7 separate regions of the Homo sapiens genome follow, and regions 1, 2, 3, 4, 6 and 7 are each linked to region 5. The links come from fine-mapping of genetic effects on plasma protein levels. Region 5 holds a variant in brackets. A gene starts in each other region. All regions are shown on their reverse strands.

Region 1 (4,196 bases), not on the chromosome of region 5:
AGAAAAAGTCAACTATGGAGTAAACTTTCTGAAACCTAATTTCATGATACCACACCACAAAACCTTCAAAAATATTCACACCTTTGAATCTAGTATTTTTATTTCAAAAATTGTATTCTACAGAAATAACTGAATAAGAGCATAAGAATGTGCACACAAAAATACCATAAAAAGAGAAGAATAGCAAGCTCCAAAATATATTACTTATTTGCACCAAAAGATAGCTATAAGTGGAAAATGCAAGTCAAAGAGTGTCCACAGTTAATAACTCTTTTTTGTGAAATGTGCAAATAGGTATATGTAGAAAAATATCTGAAAGACTAAATAAAAGATGTTTAACGATGACTGTTTCTGAATTTGGGGACTACATGCAATATGTAGTTTCTAAATTTTTGCTTACTTACATCCCTGATTTTCCTAGCCATAATCATGATTTATTTTGCCAAAAAACAAAACAAAACAAAAAAATGAAAAACCCCCTGTAGTTGGCTGTGGTTCCCAGTGTCTCTGGCTTATGCTCCTTCTCACCTTTCAGTGGGTTTGCACATGGGTTTGTAAATTACGGTTTAGAAGAGAAATCAGGGTTGAGGGACAGACACAGGGGAGTTGTGATTTAGGGGGAATAAAAGTCTTTTTTCCTGGAAAAAAAAAGGTCTCTTTATGAATGTAAACCTTACCTATAGATGTTTATTGTAGCCATACATCTGAGGAAAATTAAATACTCATTGTTGTGTGGCCCTCTTAAGTCACCATAGACCCAGAATCATGCCTTGTGGGGACACAGAGAAAACTCCCTCTGTAATGATTAATGAAATGTCCAGAATCATTTTTATTCTCCAAAAATTAATGAAATTAATAGAGAAATGAGATCTAAATCTGGTGTTGAAAGCTATTCACCTAGAACTATCCAAATGCATGGTTTGCTAAGTTAAATTTAAACCAGTTACTTTCATTTTTGAAATGGTTCCCTAGCGGTCCAGAGTAAAACTATGTATGGTGTTCCTAACAGATACTTGGATTGGACCCAGACACTATAAAATGCCTAGCACTCTTTTGAATTTTCAGATAAAGTTTAATTTTTTACTGTTGATAATAAAAATAGAGGACTAATTTTTTTTTGTTTCAAGTTTTGCTTTGCAGAGTGTCATCTGCGAACAGAAGTTTTTGTTAACACAAGTCCCAAGACATTCCTACTTCTGAGCTCCTTCCTCTGGTCTGCAACATATGTCTACAGCAATATACCTGACAAGTGGTCCTTGTTGTGGAACATTAAATAGACACGTGTCCTGAATCATCAGGGACAATCTCCACCCCCGAAGCTGTATGTTCAATAGCTTTCTCCAGGGGTGGTGCCACTTGCTTGGCTACTCCTGTCTTAGCCTGAATTCCATGTTTTATAGATAATTCACTTACCACAGGAAACTGTAGCAAACAAGGAAATGAAATAAGTTGCTTGCTTGAATAAAATCATTCTAAAAAAGAAAACAATACATAACTCTGCTGGTTTTAGACCACATTTAACATAAATCTTAATTTAAGGTGATTTAGATTTTCTTGTAAATGTCTGAATTGCAAGACAAAGCACACAATTACTGGTATAGAAAACAAGGGTTTTTTTTTGGTACATTTGTGTCTAGGGAGTTGGAAAATTTATAATGCTTCCCAAGATACAAATTGAGACCTCCAGACTACTGTTGTGTTTATTGTTCATTGGCCAACTCTGTGGCTAGTAATGTTGGAAAGGGAATTGGTAGAGAGAGAGTAAACAATTATGAAACCTCTTGATTTGGGCAAAAACAAAATTAATAAATAATGGCAATAATGTCAGTCCAAAAATCCCTAAGTAAAGAAAACCTCTGAAAATATTAAAGCCCATTTAAAAATTTTAAATCAATCAAATATTCTTTCTGATTTAAAATCATCTTACATTTAAATATTTCTACATAAAGGAACATTATCTATACTCTCTACATACTCAGGAAATTAGAATATAAATGATTAATTTTCTCATAAAGTAAAAAATTATACTTAAAAATTATAGTTTATTTGGAAACAATCAGAATAATAAAAATTTGCTACCTGAAAACACAATTGCTTCTTGGAGGTGAGTCTCTTGTCACTTAAAAATGAACGGTCTTCAAGCTGTTCTAATGTGGCACTGCAGGCAATATTTTGCTTGGCTTCAATATTGACTTTGGGTTTCTGCCAACAGTTTCAACTTTTTGTCCTGTCAACATATTCCATGAACATCCTATCCGTGTTCAGCTGTTAAGTATATTAACTATTTCAGGGAGTGATGTCAGCAAGAATAGGAATAGGAGTTTGTCAGAACAGGAGTTTCTAGCGCTCATCCCTTGCAGAAACATCAATTCGAACAAGTATCCATGCACGAAAATAACTTCACTAGAGCTAAGGAATCAGGTGAGAGGTTATGCCACCTGGTTGCAGCACAGAAATAAGAAAAGACACATAGAAGTGTATAGGAAGGACAATTTCACATTACCGGTGTCATCTCACCTTCAAGCCTGGGCAGCACAGTATGGAGAGAGATGCCCTCTTGCATGGAGGAGGGACAGTTAAGATAGAACCTAACTTCACCACAGATCCCAAGCACCAAGCCCACTCCAGTAAACCCCAGCACCAGGATTCAGGCCTGCCACAGGCCAGACCAGCCTCTGTGGCCTCAGCCCCATGCTCACCCCAGACCAGGTCAGCCCCTGGGGCTTCAGGCTCCAAGATGGCCACACAAAACCTAGACTTCAGGCCTGCTCCAGCTCTAGCCTGGCCCCCAAGACTCTATCTAGCCTCCACGTTAGCCCCAGCAACCCCAGGCTCCAAGTTGGCACCCATGGGCCTAGAATCCAGGCCATCCCCTGCAGATCCAGCACCAGGTCAGCCTCCAGAGATCTTGGCTCCATGCTGGGCCATGTGGACCCAGATGCTGGGCTCACCCCAGTGGACCTTGTTCCCAGGACAGCCTGAATAAACTCAGGAACAGGCCTATCCCCATGAACTCAGGTGCCAGGTGATCCCCATGTTAGGCTGGCCCCTGCAGACGCAGGCTTAAGGCTCATTTCAGTGCCAAGTCAGCCCCCAAGGATCCATGCTTCAAGCCAGTCCTTGTGCACAGAATACAGACAACCACAGTGAATGAACCCAGAATCCAGCCCTTCCCACCTTAGAACTCCAGCAGAAATCCTGTGCATAGACCCCAACAGACAGCCCACCAACAATCTCTGGTCAATCTGACTAGTGAATGGCTTTCTCTGCTGAAGCTAGTATGTAAAGACTGAAATAGGTGCCTACTTCAGTGCAAGGCCACACTGATCACAAATAATCGGGGAAACAAGAAACCACCAAAGGAAGGAAATAAAGCAGCAGGAGGTGACCCTAAAGAAATGGAGATCTTTACTGCATGACAAGAGCTAAAAATAATTGCCTTAAGAAAGCTCAATAAGCTACAAAACAATATAGATAGACAGTAAACAAAATCAGGAAAACAATACATGAGCAAAATTAGAAGTTCAACAAAAAGATAGATAGGAACCATAAAAAAGAATGAAACAGAAATTCTGGAGCTAAAGAACAAAATGACTGAATTGAAAAAATTCACAAACAGCTTCAGCAGCAGACTAGATCAAGCAGGAGAAAGAATCAGCATGCTCAGATACAGGTCATTTGAAATTACCCAGTCAGAGTAATAAAAGGAATGATAAAAATTGCAGAAAGCTGACAAGACTTATAGGACACTGTTAAGAAAATTAATATGCATTAGAAGAGTTCCAGAAGAAGTAGAGAAAGAGAAAGTTGCAGAAACTTATTTAAAAAAATAAGAATAGAAAACTCTCAAAATTTGGAGACATAAATGAAATAAACATCCAGATTTATGAAGCCCAAAAGAACTCCAAATAGATTAAATATAAAGAGATCCTCGGCCAGGTGCAGTGGCTCATGCCTGTAATCCCAGCACTTTGGGAGGCCAAGATGGGTGGATCATGAGGTCAGGAGATCGAGACCATCCTGGCTAACACAGTGAAACCCCATCTCTACTAAAAATACAAAAAAAATTTAGCCAGGCGTGGTGGTGGGCACCTGTAGTCTCAGCTACTCCAGAGGCTGAGACAGGAAAATGGTGTGAACCCAGGAGACGGAGCTTGCAGTGAGCCGAGATTGCGCCACTGCACACTGCACTCCAG
Region 2 (4,196 bases), not on the chromosome of region 5:
CCTACAGCCTGTAACAGGCAGAATTAGAGTCTGCACGGCTTACCAGGGCAAGGGACAGGAAGGGGAAGCCCAGGAACAAAGCTCTCCTACTCCCAAACCCCAGTCAGGTAGTGGGGAAGCTAAGGGTAAGACGCCCTCTACTGAGGGCCTGCAAGTTGGGAAGAAGGAGTCCTACCTTTACAGGGGATGCAGTTGGGGGCGCCCCCGTTGAAAATCATCCACTTGAAGAGTGTGTTGTCATTCACGTCCTCCTCGGTCCACGAGGTGCTCAGCCGGCCGGTGCTGCAGCACTCCTCCTTGCTCAGTTCGGTCTTGTACAGGACCTGGCAGCGGCCGTTCTTCGCTTGACGGAGCCAGCAGTTCCCAGCTGTGAAGAGACAAGGGTGGGGAGGTGGGTGAGTGAGCAGTGAGCGGTGGCAGGGCAGGGAGAGCGAGGTGGCTAGCGAAGGAGACCCGGCGGGGATGGGGAGGGGGTGAGCGTGGAGGAGGGGAAGTGAGAGAGACGCGGGAGAAAAGTAGGAAATAAATCGAAAGGGGTGGAGGGGTGGAAAAAGAAGGCAGTGGAGGGGGAAGCCCTGATCACAGAGATGGGAGGTGGGCGAGAGGGAGGGAGGGAGAGAGGGAGAAGACAGGGCGCCCCAGCCATATCAATGTCAGTTACCAGTGACCCAGACACAACACGTGCAGCTTGCATTGACTTTTACTAGACTGTTTACTTTTATTCGTCCCATTTCATAACCTGCAGAGACTCGAAGAGCAGATTAAAGAACCTGACAAAAACAGGATGCGACGGATGTTTTTACATGCTGGTTTCATGTAGGCGGGTACAGGAATTATTTGTGACAGGGGTTAAGAAAGTAAGAGAACGAGAGAGAGGAGAGAGGAGAGATGGAGGGGAGAGAGAGGGAGAAGGAAAGAGAAAGAAAGAAAGAAAAGAAAGAAGAGAAAGAAAGAAAAGAAAGAGAAAGAAAGAAAAAAAGGAAGAAAGAAAGAGAGAGAGGAAGAAAGAAAAGAAAGAGAGAGAGAGAGAAACAGATCAAGCAAAAGGCACTTCTGAAAAATGAAAGCAAAAAAGCAACCCGGCCCAGCCCGGAGCTACCCCGCGCGGCCTCCAGGCGCAGCCAGCCCGACGGGCCCGTTTTGCAATCCGCCAGACCGGAGCACGCCCGCGGCCACCGCGATCTTTCGAAATCTCCGAGGGCTGCTTTCCTCCGCGCCCACGTCCGGGCACCAGGCAGAGCCTCTCCTCTAAAGGCGGGCAACCCAGCGCAGTGCCATGCAGACGGCGAGGGGCAGTGCCCAGGAGGGCAGTTTACAACATACTTAAAATGTTAACGCTGAAGCAGGGAAAGTAATGCCTTAAGGTGGGGGGAGGGGGGAGTCTTCCTACCATTTCACGGTTATAAGTACCTATCTCATACCTAGCAAGAAATATTTGCAAGTGATTTCTCCCTCTTCCCCCTTTTTAATGTTCGGATTTGGGTCGAGAAGACTTCTCATGAATCACCAATATGACTTTAACAATCATTGGATCGCAAGCTGCTATTATTATTTTAAACATTCTGCCCAAAGACTAATTGAAATAAACAAATCTATTTTTAAAAGGCAAGCTTCAGAAATTTGCTCTTAACCCATTTCAGAATTTAAGTCAGTTATGGGCTGCTCACTGTTTTACAGAAAGCTAAGGGTCAGAAAGAAGAATGAGGCAGAGGGGAAAAAAACTGTAAAGTGCTCAAAGCACTTTGGGGTAATAATTTGGCTTTTTTTTTTTTTTTTTTTTTTTTGCGAGAATGGGGGATGGGGTTGGAAGAAGCATCCACTAGGCAGAAAGCTACTTCCCTTGAAAATCTTCAGCACCCACATTTCCAAGTTTGGGCAAAGTTTCTGAAACCACGTCCCCCAGCCACCAAATAAAATTCAGTATCTCTCCCCCAAACCCCCAGGTTTTCTTTTCTTTCTTTCCTTTTTTTTTTTTAAGTATCCAAAAGATGTGGGAGGGAGAGAGATGAGACTGCAAATGGGTCGACTGAAATCTCCAGGCTACTACTGATACTTGTTCCCTTCTTCAGAGCCAAACAGAGGAGATCACATCTAAAGTTATCATGGCCAGAACTTGGAGCATTTAACCCTAACTACTAAGACCCCAGCTCGCTCCCTTTCCTTTTTCAAGATAACCGAGCTCCAAACTCAGTTCCCAGTCCTAAAGTGTCATTGCCTACAATTTTCCCACTCCTCTCCATCCCGGAGTCCCCAAGTTGGTTCAACATCTTCCGAGAGCAGCGTTGCTCAGAACAGACCAAGTGGAGACCACAGAAAAGTCGACCCCCCTGTCCTCAGCCAAGCCTCCCCAGCGCATCCCCACTCGCTTACCCTGGGCACTGCGGTCCTCCATGAACTGGCAGAGCAGCAGCAGCAGGAGGCAAAGCCCACCCGGCTGGTGCCTCGCGCGGACCATCCTGGGGGCAGGCGCGGGGCGAGGAGCGCAGCGGCGCGGGGAGCCGGCGCGGCGGCGGGTGGCTCGGGCGAGCGGCGCGCGTCGCAGAGGCCAGCGGCGGAGGGCGCAGCGATCCCGGCGCAGCCCCGCGCTCGCCGCCGGCCGCCCGCGCGATTCAATGGACGTCAGAAGCCGGGCGCAGCCGCGCTTTAAATCTAGACGGGGGTCTCCGCGGTTTGCGGTGGGCGGTCTCCCAGTGTGTGGGGCTGTGGGAGGGCGGCCGCGAGCGAGGGTGTGCGCGGCTCCTTGGGGGTGGGGAGCTTTCAAAAGTTCAGTGTGAATCAGGTGACATTTCCCACCTTCTGGAAACCCTTCCCAATTATCTTTCGGAGGTGCCCGAAATCAAAACGGCTGGAAGGGAATCGTCGAGTTCTTATTTGCGTAGGAGCGAGAGGGAGGGGGAAGGCGACCGGGGCGGGGGTTGGGGGCTACGCGTCGGGGGTGGGGAGTGGGGAAGAACACCCACTTCAAGTCCTGCTCGCCGCCGCTCGCCGGCAGCGCCGGCGCGCCCGGGGTGGCGGGTGTGTGTGTGAGTGTGTGTGTGAGTGTGTGTGCGCGCGCGCGCGAGTGTGAGAGGGAGGGCGCGGTGGGGGCGCTGGAGGCGGTGGCGGGGGGAACCCGGGAGTTTGTCTCCGTGCTGCCTCTCCTCCGCTCCAAAGAGACTTTTGCAAACGGCCGAAGAGCCCCGGGCTGCCCAAATATCCCGCCCCGGGTCGGGTCGGAGCGCGCCGGCCTCGCGGCGGTTCCGGGCACCCGCAGCCTGGGCGCGGGACCCGCGAGGTTTTGTGTCTGGGTCTGTGAGTGCCTGACTTTGCAGCCACCCCCAGCCCAGAGGTGTTGCTAGGAACCCCGGCCCCGGCACCTTCCACCCTGGCAGAGCGCTACCGAGACGCGGCCCTTCGTCTGGACTAGTCGGAAGCAAACAAAAATGTTTAACACCTCAGGCCCGGTCTCCCCGCGGCACAGCCTCGCCCTCTCCCTTTCTTTTCTCCCCTTTCACTTCGCGGCGTCTGGAGTCGGAGCCCGGAGCGGGGGCGCCGACGTAGGCGGTCTGGCCCCCCCTTCCTCTCCCGCCTGGAGACTCCCCAGTTTCTGTCCTGTGTGCCTCTGTCTGTCTCTCAGTCTCCTCGGCTCCAATCTCTCTCTCTTTCTGTCTCGTCTTCTCTCTTTTCGCGGAATAAAAAAGATTGCAACATCCATAATGAACTTCTGTAGCCTCAGTTTATTAAGTACAGTGCCTGGCATTCTTCGCTGAAAGTTGGCGGGTCTCTCATTTATAACATTTTTGGCACCGCTGAATGAAACTGAGGAGGCGATATTTCCTTTTATATAAAACGATTACTTCACGGAAAATGCTATATTGTTTATTCCAAAGCTGCCTTTTAAATTTGTTCTTTTCGCATCTGAAGCCCGAAGGACAACAGATAGCGAAGTATGCAGACAAAATTCTTGGACATTCGCAGGTCACTGGGATTTGTTCTACGAATTTCAAATCTGCCCTTCTTCCCCCCCTGCAACTGCCCTCCCCCCGCCAGACCCTCCCCCAGTCCTCCTCTAGCCCTCCCACCCCCCATCTTCCGTCAACCTTCCCCCCTCCACAACTGCAAATAACTCAGTGATAACAGATTTTTTTCCACCAACTGCAGGAGATAGTGCTAATCTTTTAATAAAAGATCCCATTACAATGGGATCTGTCTGGACA
Region 3 (4,000 bases), not on the chromosome of region 5:
GTGTTTTTGGTAAAGATGGGGTTTTACCATGTTGCCCAGACAGGTCTCAAACTCCTGAGCTCAGGCAATTCTCCTGCCTTGGCCTCCCAAAGTGCTGGAATTACAGGTATGAGTTACCATGCTCAGCCTCTAGAAATGATTTCTAATGTATGTAGCTGCAAATAGAACTGGGCCCAGTTTCTGAATGGCACTTTGAGTAACTTAGCTTCATCCTCCCAGCATTTTACATATCAGGAGACTGTGTATCAATAGCAACACACTTTTAAAAGTCAGGAACAAAGAAAGTAAGCAGCTGGTAGAAGGCTCCTTGCCCAACTACACTTCAAGTGTCCTCCTCTTATCACTTCTTGGCCTTTTGGCTAAGATCAAGAAGAAGAAGACCAGGCATAGGGGCTCACACCTGTAATCTTAGCATCTTGGGAGGCCAAGGCAGGAGGATCGCTTGAGCCCAGGAGTTCAAGACCAGCTGGAGCAACATAGCAAGACCTCATCTCTATTTTAAAAAAGAAAGCCAAAAGAAGAAGGAACAAAGGGGGAAAATGTTTTCTTCTCAGATAAAAATAAGGTTAAAGAACAAAACAAAAACCAACTTGAATAAATAAGCATTCAGGAAAACGTATCTGAGGCCAGATAGAGTGGCAGAGTAAAGACATGCATGTTTTATCCCGGTATTCAGAAGTTATATTTGGAAACTTCTTATACCCTGTTCCCACATTATCTGATAAAAAGCCAAAAATAGTTTTCGTCATTCCCTTACCAGAGGAAGGAGAAAATATCTCTGATATCTTTTATGGATTGAAATTAAAGATCTGAAGGTAAATCTTCCTGATGTTTTGCTATTTAGTATAACAAACATTGTAGAAGACGTTTAAAAACTATCACTAGGTTGTGATTAAATCCAGATTACTGTTTGAAGAGAAACAATATATTTTAAAGATAAATCATTCAAAAGTTTGTTTTGCTTTTTTTTTTTCCTGGGAACTTCATATTGTGCTTTCTTGCTAATTGCCAGAGCTGGGTTGGCCTTTTCAGTCACGCATCAGAGCATAACACTTGATAAACCGTCATCCCTCCTGGTGTATGGTCTCCAGGCCCAACAGAGCAGGCAGAATGGGAGAGAAGTAACTGCCTAAAGTTTGGAAAACTTTTTATTTTGAAGTAAGTTCAAACTTCCAAAAATGTTGAAAGAATAGTGTAGTAGAACAACTCCTGTATACCCGTACCGAGATTTACCAGGTTTAAAATTTTGGAACCTTTGCCCTGTCATTATCTGTGTGTGTGTGTACGTACGTGTGTGTTCTCACAGGCATGCACATACACATTTTTTCTTCTAGACCATTTGAGAGTAGGTCTCCTATATCTTGTTCCTCTAACATTTTTTCTTTTTTCTTCTTTTTTTTTTTTTTTTTGACGGAGTCTAACTCTGTTGTCCAGGCTGGAGTGCAGTGGCACGATCTCCGCTCACTGCAACCTCTGCCTCCCGGGTTTAAGCGATTCTCCTGCCTCAGCCTCCTGAGTAGCTGGGATTACAGGCGCGTGCCACCACGCCCAGCTAATTTTTGTATTTTTAGTAGAGACTTGGCTTCACCATGTTGGTCAGGCTGGTCTTGAACTCCTGACCTCGTGATCCACCCGCCTCGGCCTCCCAAAGTGTTGGGATTACAGGCGTGAGCCACTGCACCCGGCCCCTCTAACCTTTAATACTAATACTTCAGGGAAAATACCCAAGAGCAAGGATATTCTCATACATAATCACAGGACAGTTATCCAATTCGATTAATTTAATATAAGTACAATATTTTCATCTATTCCACAGCTCCTATTCTAAGTTTGTCAACTCTCCCAACAATGGAACTGACACAATTTTATAATAGGCACACTGAAAAATGAAACCATTTCCCACTTCTAAAACAGTGTAGAAAGCTTCTGAATTCTTAGTTTGCTAGAAAAATGAACCAGTTGCCTATCCGTAAACACCAAAAATAATTTATAATCAGCAGAAACATTAGAAACCCAACTTACCTCTGTGTTTCTGAGAAGTGGCGCTTCAGAGATGAAAGCAGCCAAGGTCATCAGTGGGATTTTGATGTGAACTTTGGTGCTGGGCTGTTGCTGCATATTTTCCAAAGTAAATAAGTCCCAATCCAAACACCAGGCAACCAGCTTGGTCAGCACAAACCCCCTCAGCTGTGCCTTTGATAACTGTAGAGTGGCTTGCAGCTCCTCATCTCCAGTTCTTAGAGCTGACACTTTGAGTATATGACGGTTACTGTGTTAGCATGCACACATAGCCTTGGTGCAGGAGCAGCCCCTCTTGAGGTCACCACATAAACAAGGCGCTCTTCAGGCCTCTGGGGACCAGGCTGCATTGAGGGTAGCTGAAAGTAGAGACCATGCATCTGCCTCCAACTGTGTCCTCTCTTCTGGGATGATCACAGCATCTGCCCTCCACCTGCTCTCCAGGACTGATGTGGCTGGCTCAGCTACTAGGCGGGTGTCCCTGTCCTTCCAAGAGCTCGTTCCTCAGTGAAAGGTGGAGGAGAGAGGACAAAATTAGTGGCTTACAGAATAAGGGGATTGTGGCATGGACCTTTCTTCAGTCAAGGGTTGCTGTGTTTGTTGCCAGTAGGTGCAGCCCAGCACTCCTGTCTGTTGTGGGACAGATAGGACTATTACTGAGCAGTGCCTCCCAAATTCAGGGCCACTTAGGCATTCGTGGGGATCTCTGAGGCTGTGATACATTTTGTGTTTATGGGTGTTTGTTTGTTTGTTTGTTTGTTTTGAGACAGAGTTTCGCGCTGCTGCCCATGCTGGAGTGCAGTGGTGCGATCTCAGCTCACTGCAACCTCTGTCTCCCAAGTTCAAGCGTTCTCCTGCCTCAGCCTCCTGAGTGGCTGAGATTACAGGCGCACACCACCATGTCCAACTAATTTTTTGTATTTTTAGTAGAGACGGGGTTTCACTATGTTGGCCAGGCTGGTGTTGAACTCCTGGAGTGAAGTGATCCTCCCGTCTCGGCCTCCCAAAGTGCTGGGATTACATGCGTGAGCCACCACGCCTGGCCCTATGTGTTTTTTGAGACAGGGTCTCACTCTGTTACCCAGGCTGGAGTGCAGTGGCGTGATCTTGGCTCACTGCAGCCTCAACCTCCCGAGCTGAAGCAATCCTCCTCACCTCAGCCCTGCAAGTAGCTGGGAATACAGGTGCACACCACCATGTCTAGCTAACTTTTGACTTTTTTGTAGAGACAGGGTCTCACTATGTTGCCTAGGCTGGTCTTGAACTCTTGGGCTCAAGTGATCCTCCTGCTTCAGCCTTGCAAAGTGCTGGGATTACAGGCATGAGTCACTGTGCCCGGCCTTATGATAATTTGTTTTTTAATTTGTGTTTTAAATTTTATGATCTAAAAAGTTTTAAGAATATTCTGGATTGTCTGGAAGATCAGCTTATCACAGAGACTGCTCCTCAAGAGCATGTTTGGGAGTGTCGGCACCCAGAGTCTATCTGAAGAGAGAATGTGACTCCTAGGAGAATCTGCGGGTGTGCAAGGGGCCCATGGGGGTGTCTGTGCATTGCTCCGTTTGAGAAATTCCAGAGTGTAAAGGTCCATTGTGTTCAGGACACAGACCGGTGGTTGTGTCTGAGTCTGATTTTGCACTCTAGCTTTTGTCAGAGCTGTCTTCTTAGAGCCTTCATCTGTCACATACAATACTGAGTCTTCAGCGTGGCACCACAGGCAGAGGCTGCTGTCTGTGCCCACACTCCTCGTGGGCCCACCTCCCTCATTCTCTGTCTTGTTCTCACACATGCAAAGCCCGGCCCCAGCACAGCCCTGGCACTTGCTATTCTTTCTGCCCAGGACACCATCCCTGCAGACCAGCAGGTGGCCGCTGCTCTCACTGTTCGCTCTTGGTTTCACCGAGGCGTCACCAGCCACCCTGGCTGAAATTGCCCCTTGGCCTCCAGCTCTCAGTATTCTGCTCTCTGAAATGAGGGTGAC
Region 4 (4,196 bases), not on the chromosome of region 5:
AAGATTTTAAACAGAATGATGGGTCCCAGCAAACAGCAATTTAGGATACCTTCAGTGTGAACGGAGAGGATGTATGTGAGGCTGGCAAGTAAGCCAGGGCCCAAGACATGGAAGATCGGAGGAGCAGGAGAAGGCTCATTTCTAGGAGGGGTAAAGGTAGATTAGAGGCAAACCTGAGGAAGCCAACATCCTATTGGCCAATCCTACTGGTAGGATTTCCACTCTCCTATCCAGCTTCATTCACACTTAATATCTAACTCCCACATGCAGTTCTGCACTTGACTGTGACCTTTAAAGGGCATGGAAAATATGTTTACATAATTTCCAAGCAAGTTACACTATTGTTCCCTAAATTGGGGCCAGAAAAAAAAGAGTCTACTAAGCGAGTATGACCCCATGGGTTGAGGAGAATTGAAGTCACAAGACCTGCAGTGTCACCACATCCACGTCCTTTGCCAGCCGAGAAAAATGCGCATCAGTTTGCCACACAGTTACTGCAGTTACATCACCACCATTCAATGCCTGACTTCTTCATTCGCTTGCCATGACATCTAATTAAACACATTAGAAGTTGCAACGTCTCTCAGAAATTGGAAATCAGTTAAAATTTAATTCCAGATAAAAAGGAGGAGGTTCTAGAACCCCTCAAAATGCCCACCATCATACCCAGAGGAGTGGAGTAGCTGGGAATAGTACCGTCTTGGGCTTTTTCACTTGGACTGGGCACTCAGGCCACAATGTTATGCCCCTGAAAGCAGGTTCCTTCCTGCTATCTTCCTTTTCCATCCTTTTCTATTTTTGTCCTAGCGATGAGCAGTCTCTAACCAAGCCTAGTGTACTACAGGAACTAATAAGTAATCATAATGATAGCAAACACATATTTCACACTTATTTAGGATGAGTTAGGAGCTCTTCTAAGTAATTTATACATAGTCAAGTGCCACATAACATTTTAGTCAATGCAACAGTGGTCCCATAAGATTACAATACTGTATTTTTACTGTATGTTTCCTATGTTTAGACACACAAGTACTCACCACTGTGTTACAACTCCCTACAGCATTCAGTAGTCGCATGCTGTACAGGTTTGTACCTAGGATCAACAGGCTATGCCATGTAGCCTCCGTGTGTAGTAGGCTGAACCATCTAGGTTTGTGTAAGTACACCCTGATGTTCACACACACAGGAAAATTGCCTAAGGATGCATTTCTCAGACGTGACACATAATTGTACTTCAATTCATTTAAGTCTCATAATAACCTTAGGAGGTAGGTTCCATCATTATCTTCATTTACATTTGAGGAGACTGCAAAGTCCCGAAGAAATCTTACACTGAACCACGGGGAAAAGAACTCTGGTCTGAACCCACAAGTCAAAGTATGTCTGAGGGTTCTCAATTCCAGCAAGGGAAGGGAGGGGGTTAAAGAGTAGAACTAACTTACATGGGAAGCTTTGCTGCCTGGGCAAGCAGCTTCTGGTGGATTTCCTGAAATTCAGCAGGGTGGGGCCGCCTCTCCAATCAGACTTCACTTTACTATACTATGGGGTCATTAAATAGAGGAGCCAGGAGTTCAGGACTCCCTCCCTCTTCTTCAAAAGGAAAACTGGGTGTGGGGAGGGTACATTACCTCACAGAATATTGGAGAAAGCCTAAATGTGTCCTCCAGTGATTCATTTGGGTGGACTACTTTCACACCAAGCTAAACTCAAAAGTTCGGAGTGGGGTCATCAGGGCCCCTCCCTCCCTGAGTGCAAGAAACATTTCCTCTTTTTAAAGTACAGGCAGAGTTGGAATCAAACTCCTTCCAAACAGGAAATCAGCAAGATTCTAGGTAAAACTGATACCTTACTTTTAAAGGTCAAGCTCTTTCCTTCACCAAGAGCGTGTTTCCTGAGCACCTACTATGTGCCAGGCATGTGGTAGGTAGTTGTTATGAATCTTGATGTGCCCTGCGCTCTGCAGGGGGGCGGAGGTGGAAGGGAACACAAAGAAAGAACAGATACCAACACTGCCACCCCCGCCTCCCCCCACCCCCCCCCACACACTCATTTGGCAAAGCTTACAGGAAAAAAAGGGTTTTAGGGGGCTTGTGGTGGTTTTTTTTTCCCTAAAAATAATAGAAATGGTAAAAAGAGGCTTCGGACCCCTCGCGTGAGTCCCTTAAAGTGACTGGATTGAGACCTGGGCAGGGAAAGTGGGAGGCCCGAGCGAGGGGGAGGGCGCAGGCAGTGGGTGGGTGACAAGGTGCAAGGGCAGCGCCGGCTTCGGATCGGGAGTTGGCCGTCAGCTGCGCCAGAGGCAGGTGCCAGCGGAGAGTGGGTGGGGGTGCCGGCGCCAGGCCAGGCTCGGGGAGGCCCCGCGCTACCTCTGCCTCTAGGAGTCCAGGCGCACAGACAAGCTCCCCGGAGCCGCTCCTGCTTCGCCAACTCCCCACTCGCGCCGCCCGTGCCAGCCGCCGGCACTGGCGTCTCCGCCGCCCGCAGGAGGAGTCGCGGGAGCACTAGCAGCCGCCGCCGAGCGACAGCATCCTCAGGAGAGACGCCCCGGGCTTTGCAGCCGGCGGCCTCCGTCCGCCCTCCGCGGTCGCCCCCCGCCCCGTCGCCCGTCCGCCCGCGGTGGCAGCCGGCGCCGGCGCCCCGGGGCCCTTCACCTGCCGCGAGCGTCCGGGCGGGCGGGCGCACGGGAGAAAAGGCGCAAGAAGCGGGCACCCCGGGAACCCCATTCCCTCGGCTCACTCGGCGCGGAGAAGCGACGCCCGCTGACTCCGAGAGCCCCGGTGCTCCGTGCACCTGGTCCCCAAGTTGAGGAGCGACACCCCTCCACAGGGGACTAGCCCGCGCGGGGAGCATTCCGGTCTCACTGACCCCGGCCCACCCGCGGGACTCCAGGCACCTCTTCTGCCCGCACCCCGCGACCCCTCCCGGGACCCCGGAGACAGCCGGCCTGCCCCCGGCGTCCCCCTTGGCCAGCACGCCATGCCGGGGCTGCGCCGGGACCGCCTACTGACTCTGCTGCTGCTGGGCGCGCTGCTCTCCGCCGACCTCTACTTCCACCTCTGGCCCCAAGTACAGCGCCAGCTGCGGCCTCGGGAGCGCCCGCGGGGGTGCCCGTGCACCGGCCGCGCCTCCTCCCTGGCGCGGGACTCGGCCGCAGCTGCCTCGGACCCCGGCACGATCGTGCACAACTTTTCCCGAACCGAGCCCCGGACTGAACCGGCTGGCGGCAGCCACAGCGGGTCGAGCTCCAAGTTGCAGGCCCTCTTCGCCCACCCGCTGTACAACGTCCCGGAGGAGCCGCCTCTCCTGGGAGCCGAGGACTCGCTCCTGGCCAGCCAGGAGGCGCTGCGGTATTACCGGAGGAAGGTGGCCCGCTGGAACAGGTGAGGACCCCGCCCGGGACGCGGGAGAGCGGGCGCTCTGGCCGGGGCCTCCCCGCGCCCCAGTCTCGAGTTTCCTGACGCCCCCGGCCCAGGGCTGCAGCGGCTCCACCCACGGCTCCAGCCCTGGCGCTGGGCTTAGAGTGTGTTCCCCACCCGAACCCCACCAGCTGTTGCAGACCTCACAGTCCAGTCCCGGAGTCAGATAGTACGAGGAAAAAGTTTCTATTGCAGCCGCACAGCGAAGAAACGCTCTCAGCCCCTTCCCCTTGAGCGCCTGGGTCGTCGTTGAGCCCCACTCCTGCTCCCTCGTCCACTCCCGCTCCCTCGTCCGCTCCCAAACCCCACTCTCTGTCCTGATGTGGAGGAAAGCTGCCGCTGGACTTCGGGTTTCCAGAATGAGGCCCCAAACAGGGTGACTCCAGAGCTAGTTGAAATTCAGCACTTAACTGTGCTCTTTGGGTAAACCTGGGCGCCTTCCAGAAAGCATGTTTCTCCCCAAAACCCAGTTCTTTCCCTTTCCTTATTCCTCTGCCCAGTTTCAGAGATCACAAGGGGGTCATCTGAGGCAGGAAGTAAATGGTCAGTTCTCTGCCGCAGCCACCCCATTGTTCACATTTAAAACGCGGCTTGGGCCCATCCAGCAAGTATTAGAACTTGAAGGCACTTTTATCGTCTTGTATGATCCTGGTGATTTGGACTGACTTGGATCTGCGGCTTGATGCTTCCACAGACGAGAAAAAAATCTTTCAGGGAATTTTTTAAACCCAAAGCAAAATACAGAGGAAAAAATATCAAATATATTTAGGATAAAATTAA
Region 5 (4,196 bases):
AGCGGAGATCGCGCCACTGCACTCCAGTCTGGGTGACAGAGCGAGACTCCATCTTAAAAAAAAAAAAAATGATAGTAGTGATCTATCAGATGAGAACATGTCCCGGCATGATAAAAATAAATAATAATAATAATAATTTTTGAAAATGATGGTGATCTATTAGTACAGAAAGATGTTCATAAAGCAACTTTAAAACAGCATATCAAGTATGGTCTTACTTTTGTACAAATATATTTATATATGCATATAATAGAAATTTAAAAGGACATTCTCCAAAATTTGTTAGAGTGTTTTTTTTTTTTTTTTGAAGATGGTAGATTTGGAGTGATTTTTTCTTTTTTGCATTTCTGTAATTTGTAACGTCTTTACTATAAAAAATGTATCTATAAAAAATGTATGGCTGTTAAAATGAACATTTTTCTTTAAAAATACAGTGTTTTGGCTAGGCGTAGTGGCTCACGCCTGCAATCTCAGCACTTTGGGAGGCTAAGGCGGGTGGATCACTTGAGTCTAGGAGTTGGCAAACAGCCTGGGCAATGTGGAGAAACCCGATCTCTACAAAAAAAATACAAAAATTAGCCAGTCATGGTGGTGAGTGCCTGTGGTCCTACCTACTTGAGAAGCTGAGGTGGGAGGATCAGTTGAGCAGGGGAGGCGGAGGTTGCAGTGAGCTGAGATGGCACCACTGCACTTTAGTCTGGGCCACAGAGTGAGACTTTGTCTTTAAAAAATAAAAAGAATGAAAGACATTGGAAGGAGAGTGGATTCCCTGTTCAGGGGCAGAGAAACTTCCGCTTCTATACGAGTTCTGAGTCCAGGTAAGTCAGTGTTTCAGCTGTGTCTGGTCAAGCCAGGAAACTTCTGACAGACATGGTTTGAATAACGAATAAGAGACCACATCTCTCCAGAGCAACCCTTCAGGGCCCTGATTCTGCCCATGGAGGGTGGGCAGGTGGTGTATGAGAAAACTGAGAACCAGAGATGTAAAATTGCTTGCTTTCTTGGGCCACACTGTAGAGCTAGACCGGCATCCAGAGCTCCCAATGCCCACACAAAGCTCTAAATTGCAAAGAGCACACACACTGATTATTATTTCTGTAATTATTATCAGTATTTGTGCTGGATTATAATTCATTGGCAAGCAGGGACTATATGCACATAAAGTTATCTGCAATGAATTCAGCATAGTAAACTTGCAAAAAAAAAAAAGGTGTGGTAAAAGCTTTTGGATAATGATGATGACTTTGGTATCAAGAATTAACCTGTCCCAGCCAGGCGCAGCGGCTTACACCTGTAATCCCAGTACTTTGGGAGGTCGAGGCAGGCAGATCACTTGAGGTCAGGAGTTCGAGACCAGCCTGGCCAACATGAGGAAACCCTATCTCTACTAAAAATACAAACAGTAGCCGGGCATGGTGGTGCACACCTGTAGTCCCAGCTACTTGAGGCACGAGAATCACTTGAACCCAAGAGGCAGAGGTTGCAGTGAGCCAAGATTGCACCACTGCACTCCAGCCTGGGCGACAGAGTGAGACTCTGTCTCAAAGTAAAAATAATTAACCTGTCCCAAAGGACAAATGAACATCTGTCAGGTGACTGGAGGCCTATCCCGCAACTTTTTGCATATTCCTAGAGACAGCTGAGCCCAGTAGTTCATTGCCTTGGGAATTCTGACTAGTAACCTGGTAACCCATGACCTTGCCCAGCTGGCTTTGTGAGGGTCAGAGAGGTCTCCAAACTTTCTGCCCTACAGCCTTGGGTTTTTTGATTCTTGGAATCCCTCACCCTCTGAGCCCCTTACTGCAGATAGGACCTTCTCATTCCCCATACCTGGATGAAGTTCCCTTCATATTCAAAGAAAAGCAGTGGCCATGTGATGCTGATGATGGAGGGAAAGAGCTTCTTCAGAGGGATCTGGAGAGAGAGAAAGAGGAGCAGGAGAGGCATCTCCAGGAAGGCCTGGCTGCAACTGCCACCTGGGTCCCTTTGTCACGGCTGGACTCTCACC[A/G]GCAAGGTCTGACCCACGGTGCTGTGTGCCAGGGCCTGGATGTGGTTGGTCTTCTCTTTCACCTGCTCCACTATAGTCTGCACCTCCGTGAGGTTGTCTAGGAGAAGGGGAGGGCATCAGAGTCGAAAGGCTGGCTGTGCAGCTGTTCCTCCTGCTCCCCTGGCTGGGGTCCAGTCAGGATATTCACCCCGTCCCTCCCTCTGAGCAGGTACCCTAAGACCCAGAAAAACAACAGCTCCTCTGAACCATTCTATTTCCCCCTCCCCACCCCTCACCACTCCCATCTTCCCTCTCACCATCCAGGGTGAAAATGAAGACCACAGTATCGATTTCCGTGAGAGAGGGAAGGATGGAAGTCAGGAAGTCCTCCTGGGAGAAGGTGAACTGGGGACCCTGGGGCAGAAGAAGATGGGAGGGTCCCTCCCATGAAAACACTCTAAAGCACAGACTTGAGGACTAAAGGGGGCCGTGGAGGAGATCTAACACTTTTGTGCACAGGTGAAAGAGCTGAAGTTCAAAAGGTACAGTGTTTTGCCCAAGATTATGTAACAAGTCAGTGGACTAGGGCCAAGTTTGGGGACTGGATCTAGAGCTTTCCACACTGCCCATGCTAAGCCAAAGCCTCATGACTTCTGACCCATATTCTCTTCTCTGGACCGTCTATTCCAATGAACTTCCCACCTAGCTCCGCCTTCCCCTTTTCTTCCACCCTCAGCACACTAGTGGTCTCCCCAGCTTCCCCAAGTCCTGTTCTTCTCCGACCTGGTTGGTGAGCTCAGCCTTCTGGTTAAACATGTCACTGTGATCACCAATGAGAAAGCCACGGACATCTCGGAAATCTGGGAAGTTTAAGAACAAGGAGAGAGGAGTGATTGGCTATATAGGAAAGGAAGGTTCTAGGCTTCAGGGGGAGAAAATGGGACTGGGAGGAAAAGTGGCAAGTGGGGCGTAGAGTGAGGAGTAGCCCTTGTGGGAGGCCATAGTTAAGCACAGGGGTGGGAGCTGAGAAGGGATCAAGGACTGAGTTGGGGTTCTAAGGAAGAAGAATTTGACTGAAGTGCCTATTTAGATAGGGAAGGTGGGACACTGAGGAACACCCATGGGTTGGGAGTAGGACAGTGTTTGGAGAGCAGCCCGAATGGTTGGGATCAGGAGGAAGCAGGAAGAACATCTGGACTGGGGTCCCACCAGCACCAAAGGTGTGGATGCACTCTACTCCATCCATGATGGCAATGATGCCCAGGGTCTGCCAGCCAACCAGGTACACGTGGCCTTTCTTCTCCAGACTGAGAATGGGTCAGAGGTCAGGACATGAGAGATCACCGTGCAAAGAGGCCAGAGATGTCCACAGAAGAACACAGGAGTCAACAAACCATGACCCTTCAACATGCAATCCTATCGCCCATACCGTGTTAACATGTCTCACAGAGTCTCCCTGCTCTCAGTATTCTCCATCCGGGCCACATCCTCACCTCTAAACACATATCCACACACCTGGTGCTGACACTCTTCATCAGGGTGGCAATCTTGGGGCTTTGGCTGTAGGTCACCTGATGAGCTCGCTCAAATGTCCGCAAGATTTCCAGGAGGCATCTGGGAGAAAAGCCACCAGCTCTCAAGAAGGGCCCAATTCCCCCTCAGAAAGCTTAGGTGCCTCCCTGAGCGGGGAGGTGAAGGCACAGCTCCCTTAGAACTAAATTCTGCTGGTCCCTGGAGAGGTGCAGAGAGTAGGCCCAGACTGCGTTCCGAAGGGGCAGCAAGGGCTTCTTCAATGGGCAGAAAACAAAAGAGCAGAAAGAGGGACGAGTGCAGCAGGAAAGCACCAGGAGGAGCAGGATCTGAGAGCCACTGGGAAGGGGCATGAGCAGCCTAGGAGTGAGGCTAGAGACCCTGGAGAGGGAGGCAGGTCCAGAGTAGGATAAGCTCTACCTGCATGGCCTGGACCACCCCCAAATCAAAGGACCCTAGGGAGCCAGGCTAGCTTTGGAGGCCCCAGGCAGGCTCAGGGATTAGGTCTGGGCCTGAGGAATCCAGGATCCACTGGAAACAATTCGGACTCTGCAACTATGAGGTGGGAGCAACAGCATGTACTACCCAGCTCCCTTCCCAGGGGAGGCGTGGTGGGCTGCAGTCTTACTGCCACCAGCCCAGTCCTTGGATCTAGACCTGCCAATCTCCATCCACACCA
Region 6 (4,163 bases), not on the chromosome of region 5:
TCGGCCAGAATATGGGGTCTATCTAAGCTCATATTCATGAGACAAAACCAAGCCTTCTGGTTTCCAATCTCAAACCATGCCTCTCACATGGAGCCACCCAAGAACACTGCTTCCCAAGCTGAGAAGACTCTTGAACAGTCACCCTGGAGGGAATGAAGGCCTTTCTTAAGCAGGCTGTCATGGTGAGCCACGTGCCATGCACTCTGAATGTGGACCAGTTAAGGACACACCACTCCACAGCCAAGGCAGCGGTGCCCTCTTTCCCAGACGAGGAAACTGAGGACATGAAGGCAGTGGAACTTGAATAAGGTCACACTGTTGGGAAGTGGGAGAGCTGGGATTTCACCCTAGTCTACAAAAAAGGGGATGTAGGGCACCAGGCAGTCCTCCTGCAGGTCAGAGAGGCAGTTTTCTCTGCAGCCTCTTGGGGTGAGGTGGATTTGTTGTGGCGCTGCCAGAATGGAAGCAGTGTTAGGAAAGTGGAAAGTTTTTTTTTTTTTTAGACGGAGAGGCTCTGTCGCCCAGGCTGGAGCGCAGTGGTGCAATCTCAGCTCACTGCAAGCTCCGCCTCCCGGGCTCACTCCATTCTCCTGCCTCAGCCTCCTGGGTAGCTGGGATTACAGGCACCCGCCACCACGCCCGGCTAGTTTGTTGTTTTTTTTTTTTTTGTATTTTTTAGTAGAGATGGGGTTTCACTGTGTTAGCCAGGATGGTCTCAATCTCCTGACCTCATGATCCGCCCGCCTCGGCCTCCCAAGGTGCTGGGATTACAGGAGTGAGCCACCACGCCTGGCTGGGAAGGGTTTTAAAGTCCAGAACAAATGCACACAGTGGCCTTATCTATGGGGTGGAGTGCAGAGTGGGCATTCGTGTGGAGAGAGACATTCAGGCTGCGGCATGTGGAGAGTGGCCTCTCCTTTTGGGAAAGGCCTTCTGGAGAGCAGGATGTAACTGGGTGACACTCCAATCTCCGGATCAATTGCTAGATTGACTTTCCCCCAGATACCCACACCCTCTGAACCCAGTTCTAGGAAATTTCAGGGTCTGGAGAGCAGTTTCCTGACCTCTGGACTAGGTAAACAATGAAAGCAAGCACTGTGATTAAAGCCAGCACCGCCAGTGACCTGGAGTCAACTACCTCACCTCACCTTCTGCCACTGGAGCAGGAGCAGGGGGAAGCTCTGGCTGCTAAAGAATAAGAAGGGAAACAAGTCTTCTCAGGCCCTGTCTTCTTTAGGCCCTGGATCTCCTGATATCCACTGATGGCTTTAGGCATGTGGCTCTGTACCATCCTGGACATTTTTCCAGGCACAGCAGACAGGTCAGCAGGAAGTAAGGAAGCCAGTCCCTCCACAAGCCAAGAAGACTTCAATTGGAAGGGACCTGGAAATGCATCTTACTCACATTTCTTTTGGTGTTTGGAGGCCTCCATAGTACCCCCACCACATGGCCCCGCAGCCTCTGAACTTCTCAGGATGGGCTCCCCAACACCCCAAGCTACATGGCATTTTTCTGAAAGCCATATCAGTAATGTAGTTGAGAATCAAATGAACTATGTTCGTAAAAGTATTCTTCCATCCCTTCTAGATTGTCCCCATTAACCACAGCAAGATGGTTCAAGCCATTAACACACACGATACCCATGATCTTATAGTGCCAAGTGCTGTTCTTTTGCTTCTTATCTCAGTTGAGTGGCTCCTAGATAGTCAAGTCATAAATGTGTGTGCCCATGAAAACTTCTTATTATCACTCACTATTCTAGCTAATTCTCAAGTGCAATCAATACCTCCTGTTTCTCAAGTGTGCCTACCTTCTTAATCTAGCTGCCATTACCCTGACCCAGGCCACTGTCTTCTGCTGCTTAGATCATGGCAAGCACTTCCTTTTAGATCTGCTTTTCTCCAGTCCTGTTCCCCTCAACATCATAGCCAGAACAAGCCTTGCAAAATTCAAATGTGATCACCTCTCCACTACTGCAGTCCCTCTAGTGCCCCCTGGAAGGAAACCCAAAGTCTTTAACACAGTTTACAATTCTTGTTATGAGGATGAAATTTGAAGACATTGTGCTAAGTGAAATAAGCCAGATACAAGGGGGCTATTGTATGATTTCACATATATGAGGTACCTAGGATAGATGAATTCAGAGAGACAGAAAGTAAAACAGAAGTTACCAGTGGCTGTGGGTAGGGGTAAATGGAGAATTCTAGTTTAATGAGTTGAGAGTTTCAGTTTGGGATGATGAAAATCATCCCATGATGTGGTGATGATAGCACAACCGTGTGAATGTACTTAATGCTACTGAGTTGTGTGCTTAATAATAATGGTCAAAATGGTAAATTTTATGTCTATTTTACCACAATGAAAAACTGGAAAAGTAAAGTCAATGACTATAATATCATAAAGTGTAAGTAACATGAGAGAAAATAATTCAGGCTAAGAGGATAGAGACTGCTAGGTAGGACTATTTTAGAATAAGTGATCAAGGTACTGATTTCTCTGAAATTGGAATATTTGAATAGAAGAGAAAGAGCTAGCTGGCGATGCCCGTAAGGGGTCCAGGCATGGAGACATCAAATGAAGAGTCTGAGGCAGGAATGGCCTTAATGCATTAATGGCAGCAAGAGGTCTATGTGGTTTCATGGATGGGTGTGTGCGTGCATGCACGTGTCTGTGTGTATAGTTGGTGTGCATGAGCATGTGTATGCATTTGTGAGTATCTTTGTTTTTCTGTTGGAAACAAGGATGTCAACAGGACTAACTAGGTGAACCTAGCTGTGGTAGTTCAGCAATGAGATTTGCCAAAATGGATGGCAATTGAAAGAGGAATTGTGCTGTATTAAAGCAGACAGCTGCCGAGCACTGTATTGGAGGCTCCTAAATTTCTCATAGTTCTGAGAAGAGCTGTTTATTAATCTGGAGTTGAAGGCCAGGCCCAGGATATCCTTGTTCACAAGGTTGATTGGGCCCTACATTGCTGAGCCCAGCCTCCTCCCTCACTCTGAGGCATCTGCCAGAGCCCCAGGCTAGAGGGCCAGCGTCCTTGTCACTGAGTCCCTGCTCTGCAGAAACACCAGTAAGTCATTTCTGGTGAATAAATCTGGGTTTCCGGATCAAGGGTTTGGGGAGCTGACATGACCCTGGAGGCATGGAGGAGGCTTTCTAGGGGTGGGGGGAGTGGGATGGAAAGCAGAAATCAGGTTGAGGATGTCTCTTTTTCTGCTTGTGCTGGAGCATCTGTGACTTTCCTCCATTATCTGTTCATCTGCAGTGGAGACTGTCTTTGTTTTCAAAGGGAAACTTGGAGGCTTAGACCTATGGGGCTAGGCTGCTGAGGTTTCTTAGGGGGCAATAGCTGGAAGAAAGCTCTGAAGAACAAATGAAAGGTTAATACTGAGAAATGGGAGGAGGATTCAAGGCAAGTTTTCTAATTGCCAGTGGTTTTTGACTCACAGAACATGGGGAATTCCTGCCAGAAAGTAGAGAGGTATTTAGCACTCTGCCAGGGCCAACGTAGTAAGAAATTTCCAGAGAAAATGCTTACCCAGGCAAGCCTGTCTAAAACACCAAGGGGAAGCAAACTCCAGTTAATTCTGGGCTGGGTTGGTGACTAAGGTTGAGGTTGATCTGAGGTTGAGACCTTCCTCTTTGGATCACCAGCTTTCAGCTCAGGGCCTGCCAATGAGTAAATGATAGTTAACAGGTCCTGGAGGGGAATCAGCTGCCCAGATACAAAGATGGGATTCAGGTGGCAGATGGACCCGAAGAGGACATGGAGAGAAAGAGGAAGCTCCTACAGACACCTGGGTTTCCACTCATTCTCATTCCCTAAGCTAACAGGCATAAGCCAGCTGGCAATGCACGGTCCCATTTGTTCTCACTGCCACCGAAAGCATGTTTATAGTCTTCCAGCAGCAACGCCAGGTGTCTAGGCACAGATGAACCCCTCCTTAGGATCCCCACTGCTCATCATAGTGCCTACCTTTGTTAAAGTACTAGTCACGCAGTGTCACAAGGAATGTTTACTTTTCCAAATCCCCAGCTAGAGGCCAGGGATGGGTCATCTATTTCTATATAGCCTGCACCCAGATTGTAGGACAGAGGGCATGCTCGGTAAATATGTGTTCATTAACTGAGATTAACCTTCCCTGAGTTTTCTCACACCA
Region 7 (4,196 bases), not on the chromosome of region 5:
CTCATGAGTTTGAAATCATGACATTGGTTACCATCCTGAAGCTTCTGGATGCTATCTTTCTGATTCCACTGACTACATGCTCTACTTATTATCAGTGAGAAAAGCCTGTCTTATTTCCCATATATGTAGCTCAAACTCCCTCTGGGATCCTTGCTTCTCTGGGAATGCAACTTATATCTGTTGACGATGTGCCAGGCACTGTGTTCCATGCTTTTCATAACCATAAAAATAACTACTAGTAATAGCATCTGACAATTATTTTTCAGTGTGATAGTTAGGATGTGGCTTGCTCTGCTAAGAGTTGTATCTGAAATGTACATGGAAAGTCCATTTCAGAGAGTATTCTGTGTATACTCTCTGTGTACATTTCAGAGAGAGTAACTGGGACCAGGTTATAGAGGGCAATGTCATATTTAGAGGTTTAAATCATGTCCTGTAAGAAGTGTGAATCCATGGAAGAATTTTAGACAGCATATTCATGTGAGCAATATTCAGAGTATAATATTTTTTGATGACATCAAGAGAACATTATGAAAATCAAGCATTGTACAGTCCTACTGAGGTTTTTGAGACATAAAGTTATGTTTGTCTTCATACAAAATGATCCCAGTCTCATACTTTTTTGGTTTTCATTCTGACTTCTTCTAGTTTTATTCTTCCTGTCTTATTACTTGCTGTCAGGTTCTCAACTATTGCTTACTTATATCATTATAGTTGTCTACCTGATGCAACCTCAGACCCCTTTTTGATCGATTTGTAGCTGGAAAAACAAATAGGAGAATTGTGATTACAATTCCACACATATTTTGAATCGTCATTAAAATGATTGTTAGTAGCTTTTAAGTATTGCCACTGTTGTGCTCATTGAGTGCTCTGGCTTTGTGATATATCTTTCTAGTTACTTACAGGTTTTCCTCCCCGTACTTGGCAATTGGAGTTTTCAGGATAATGAAACACCAATTACCAATGAAACACCAATTAGTAGATAGATAAGTAGTAGACATAAGATAAAGATATGGGACTATGACAAGCACTAAACAAATGCAGGTAGCATAATACAATATATATTTTTTTAATTAGGCAGACATACAGATAGGAAATTCAAAGAAGAAAGAGCTGCAGATGTAAGATCTAGTATCCAGTTGCTTTGACCAGATCTCTTAGACAGTCATTTCATTTTCAAGTGCTCTCGTTGAGTCAAGACCTCAGACCCACACCAAGGGTTTGATGATGACATATCCTCTGATTTCATAGTTCAGAGCCTGCCAGTCCAGGATATTGGCAGGGAGAGGGGTACCCTGATAGGCAGACAGGATATTTTCTGGGGGCAGCACAGAGTCCCACATGTACAAATCCCCAATCTCTCCCACAAAGGACTGGCTCCTATCAAACTTGCCCCCATAGGAATCCTGTTCCTGCCCCAGGACAATCTTGGGCTGAGCTTCTACAAAGTAACCCTGTCGCAGACCCTTTTTCACCAAAGGTGTCCCATTGATCCAAAATTCAGCAATACCTGATGAGGACTCCCAGCTCACACAGATGTGCACTGGAGCCGGGAACTTTTCGATAACTTTGGATGTAACTTTGTGTCTTCCAATGTATAGACTATACTCTCCAACTCTTTCTTTATAAACTAGTAGCTCATTATCCCTGCCTTGGGTATTGTAGGAGAAGAGGCTGTAGGCACGAGAGAGATCACTATAGGCTCGAAAACACAAGGTAAAGTTCTGTAGAGGCTTCTCCAGCGGTGTGATCAAGTTTACATGATCAGTAACAGATTCTCTAGGAAATACAAACACCTTCCCACTGAGGTCTGCGGGATAAAGAAAGAAAGATAATGACCTTCAGTATAAATGCAGGGAAAAGATATCTCAGCTTCAACCTATTTTCTCACTTTATGATTCTTGACCATTCCTTCACCTCCTTACCTGTGTGAGCAAAGGCTTCCAGGAGGCTGGTGAGGACAGAGATCCAAAGCAGCGGCTTGTTCATATTCCTGGCCTAGGGCTGTTATAGCAGAAGCAGTGACCAGGATGAGGGTAGCAGACAACACAGTGGCTGTCCCCCTAGCGTCTGATATTCATGCCCTTAGACTTCAGGTTATTCAGGGTTTATATGCACCTTGGGTGAGGATGGGGGAGGAAGAGCACCAATAATATGTGAGTGATTTTCCAGGTCTGCCTCCTGGCGCTTACGGTGAAGGAGTGGTGAGCCCTGAGCTGGAAAATCAATGGGAGTTATTTATTAGAGACAAGTGATGGCTAGAGCTCCAACTCCTGTGACCCAGATTTTATTGCTGGGAAGAGAGTCATTGCAGGGCAGCAGGGTTATGGATGGGATGAGGCGCTGGGCTGGCCATGTCAGCAGAGCCTCTCTCTGCTCTCTGGGCCCCCTCTCTGATGGCTCTGTGCTCTGCCAGAAGCTCCTGAGCCACACAGAGTGTATCGCTGAGCTCAGCCCTCTTGTGGGCTATGGGAACAAGGCCTTTTCTTTCTTTTATAGTTCTCAAGTTGTCTTGTATTTGTAGGATATTCTAGGATTCTGCTTTCTGCTGAAGACCCTAAAAAGTGCCTTCAACTTTGACTAATTCAACATCAAGTAATACATCCAGGCAAAGCTAAGGGGAAAGAGGGACTTGGAGAATAAACTTTCTGTCCCCATGAAGCTTAGTATTTTTCTGCTACTTCTACTCAGTGCTTTTTTTTCGTTTGCATATCATGGTGCTTCCTTATCCTAGATCTTTCCATTTCTCATTACGACTTGTTTTCTGGTTACTTCATGCTACCTGCAGAGATGTCAGCATCTCCCCAAGTTTTTCTCTCCTCTTCTTTGAGTCCTTGGTCATTGAGTGTATATCTAATCCATCTTTGGTGATGACCCCACTAATACATTTATTCACTAGCTCTCAGTTACTACACTAGGTGCTGGGGATTCAGTGGTCACTGGCTCTCTCACAGCCCCAGAGATCTCCACCTTCATTCTTTCTATGTCTCCTTCATTCTCTCTCTGTACAGTTTATTAACCACCACTCAAACCTTCTCTGCCTCTGAGATATCAAACTGAAGTTCTTCTTTCTAGCCACATTATTTCTTTCTCTCTCATCCCTGAATTATATGGTGTCTTGTTTCTCATCCTACTGTTTAGCCTCTTGTTCACTCTCTCTTCTGTTAGCTCACCACAGACCTAATCAGCCTTTTCAATGACACAATCACTGCCACCAAGAATACACTTTCTCTATCATTGTTCAAAGTATCCTTCCTATTCTCATCCCTGGGGAGTTTCCATTCTCTACTTTTTTTCTCTAAATGGAATCCCAGGTTGTGAAGCCTTATCTGGCTTGTTGCACAGTATAGGTTAGTGATAAAGTTGGGATTATGCATCTATTGACTCCTGAATTAAATACAGACCATTTGCTTGGAAGCCAATGCCATTTGCAATCTGGCTCTAACCTGGCTATTATCTCAGAATCTAATCCTATTCTCCAGTCAAACACCTCTAATTGTTGTTCTTTATACCTTCCTGGCTTTCTTGATTTCATTACTTCTATTCAGTGCCTTCATACTGTCTTGAATTTCTCTCTTATTTTCTTTTCCTGTTTCTAGGAATTCCAGCCATTCTTCCACATTAATCTCAAGCTTATTTAGGTGATGGTTATAGTAAAAGCCCAGACTTCACTATTATGTTATTGCTGTCTATGTAATAAAACTAAACTTGTATGCCTTGAATTTATACAAAAATATAAAAAATAAAAAACAATCTGCTTCATGAAGACTTTTCTAATATCCCAACTATACATTATTTCCCCTCTTTCGTACTTCCCATAAGGTTAAGATCAAAGACTTTGGGATAGAATTCCAATGTTGCCATTTACTAGTGGCTGACTATTCTGCAAGTCACTAAACCCCTCTGAACCTTAGTTTCCTTCTCTGTGAAACAAAGATAAAACTATCTACCTCACAGTGTTTCTCTAAGGATAAATGAGATACTATGATATACATAAAGTACATGGAACAGTATCTGGATGGTTATTATTACCATCATTTTAGAGCCTTTATGGCTGTTACCACTATCTGTCTCATATTATAGATATTATTGTATTTATCTTGAATCCCTTCTAGACTGAATCTGGGTATTAGGACTTATTTATATTTAGATCATTGGTTTCATCTAACAATTTTTCTTACACATGAAAAGAA

Alleles and levels. Alleles are on the strand shown, and positions count from the first base shown. The strength of an association depends on the size of the effect and on how common the allele is.
For the plasma level of the protein whose gene starts at base 2,160 in region 1, G is the low allele of the variant in region 5 and A is the other (moderate association).
With allele A in place of G in region 5, the plasma level of the protein whose gene starts at base 2,618 in region 2 is higher (moderate association).
With allele G in place of A in region 5, the plasma level of the protein whose gene starts at base 2,055 in region 3 is lower (moderate association).
With allele G in place of A in region 5, the plasma level of the protein whose gene starts at base 2,276 in region 4 is lower (moderate association).
For the plasma level of the protein whose gene starts at base 3,026 in region 6, A is the low allele of the variant in region 5 and G is the other (moderate association).
With allele G in place of A in region 5, the plasma level of the protein whose gene starts at base 2,088 in region 7 is lower (moderate association).

The links. PIP is the posterior inclusion probability: the model's chance that the variant is causal. Protein levels are from antibody-based Olink assays in UK Biobank. Linkage for the fine-mapping came from a reference panel and not from the study's own genotypes, which makes the PIPs less certain.
Region 1: it holds the start of KLKB1, and the variant in region 5 is fine-mapped to the plasma level of the KLKB1 protein (UK Biobank, PIP 0.98).
Region 2: it holds the start of FST, and the variant in region 5 is fine-mapped to the plasma level of the FST protein (UK Biobank, PIP above 0.99).
Region 3: it holds the start of SERPIND1, and the variant in region 5 is fine-mapped to the plasma level of the SERPIND1 protein (UK Biobank, PIP 0.98).
Region 4: it holds the start of FAM20A, and the variant in region 5 is fine-mapped to the plasma level of the FAM20A protein (UK Biobank, PIP 0.97).
Region 6: it holds the start of MBL2, and the variant in region 5 is fine-mapped to the plasma level of the MBL2 protein (UK Biobank, PIP 0.98).
Region 7: APCS starts here. The variant in region 5 is fine-mapped to the plasma level of the APCS protein (UK Biobank, PIP 0.92).

What each region holds. Positions count from the first base shown.
Region 1 is chr4:186,225,471-186,229,666 of GRCh38, reverse strand. KLKB1 (kallikrein B1) reads right to left here and starts at 2,160. Exons shown (of 15, transcript NM_000892.5): 1 at 2,080-2,160; 2 at 1,414-1,472. The coding sequence starts at 1,471. RefSeq lists an enhancer at 2,983-3,653.
Region 2 is chr5:53,479,051-53,483,246 of GRCh38, reverse strand. FST (follistatin) reads right to left here and starts at 2,618. Exons shown (of 6, transcript NM_013409.3): 1 at 2,371-2,618; 2 at 176-367. The coding sequence starts at 2,455. RefSeq lists an enhancer at 1,316-1,385.
Region 3 is chr22:20,772,168-20,776,167 of GRCh38, reverse strand. SERPIND1 (serpin family D member 1) reads right to left here and starts at 2,055. Exons shown (of 5, transcript NM_000185.4): 1 at 2,023-2,055. The region is part of intron 19 of PI4KA (phosphatidylinositol 4-kinase alpha); the gene reads left to right.
Region 4 is chr17:68,599,447-68,603,642 of GRCh38, reverse strand. It overlaps FAM20A (FAM20A golgi associated secretory pathway pseudokinase), which reads left to right and starts at 2,276. Exons shown (of 11, transcript NM_017565.4): 1 at 2,276-3,380. The coding sequence starts at 2,977.
Region 5 is chr2:27,505,886-27,510,081 of GRCh38, reverse strand. It overlaps GCKR (glucokinase regulator), which reads right to left. Exons shown (of 19, transcript NM_001486.4): 11 at 3,503-3,601; 12 at 3,197-3,294; 13 at 2,771-2,847; 14 at 2,305-2,401; 15 at 2,008-2,105; 16 at 1,831-1,914. Among named protein-coding and RNA genes, the nearest start is that of GCKR, 11 kb to the right of the region's middle. The variant A/G (reference allele first, on the strand shown) is at 2,009.
Region 6 is chr10:52,771,647-52,775,809 of GRCh38, reverse strand. MBL2 (mannose binding lectin 2) reads left to right here and starts at 3,026. Exons shown (of 5, transcript NM_001378373.1): 1 at 3,026-3,073.
Region 7 is chr1:159,585,718-159,589,913 of GRCh38, reverse strand. APCS (amyloid P component, serum) reads right to left here and starts at 2,088. Exons shown (of 2, transcript NM_001639.4): 1 at 1,929-2,088; 2 at 1,049-1,813. The coding sequence starts at 1,992. The coding sequence ends at 1,206.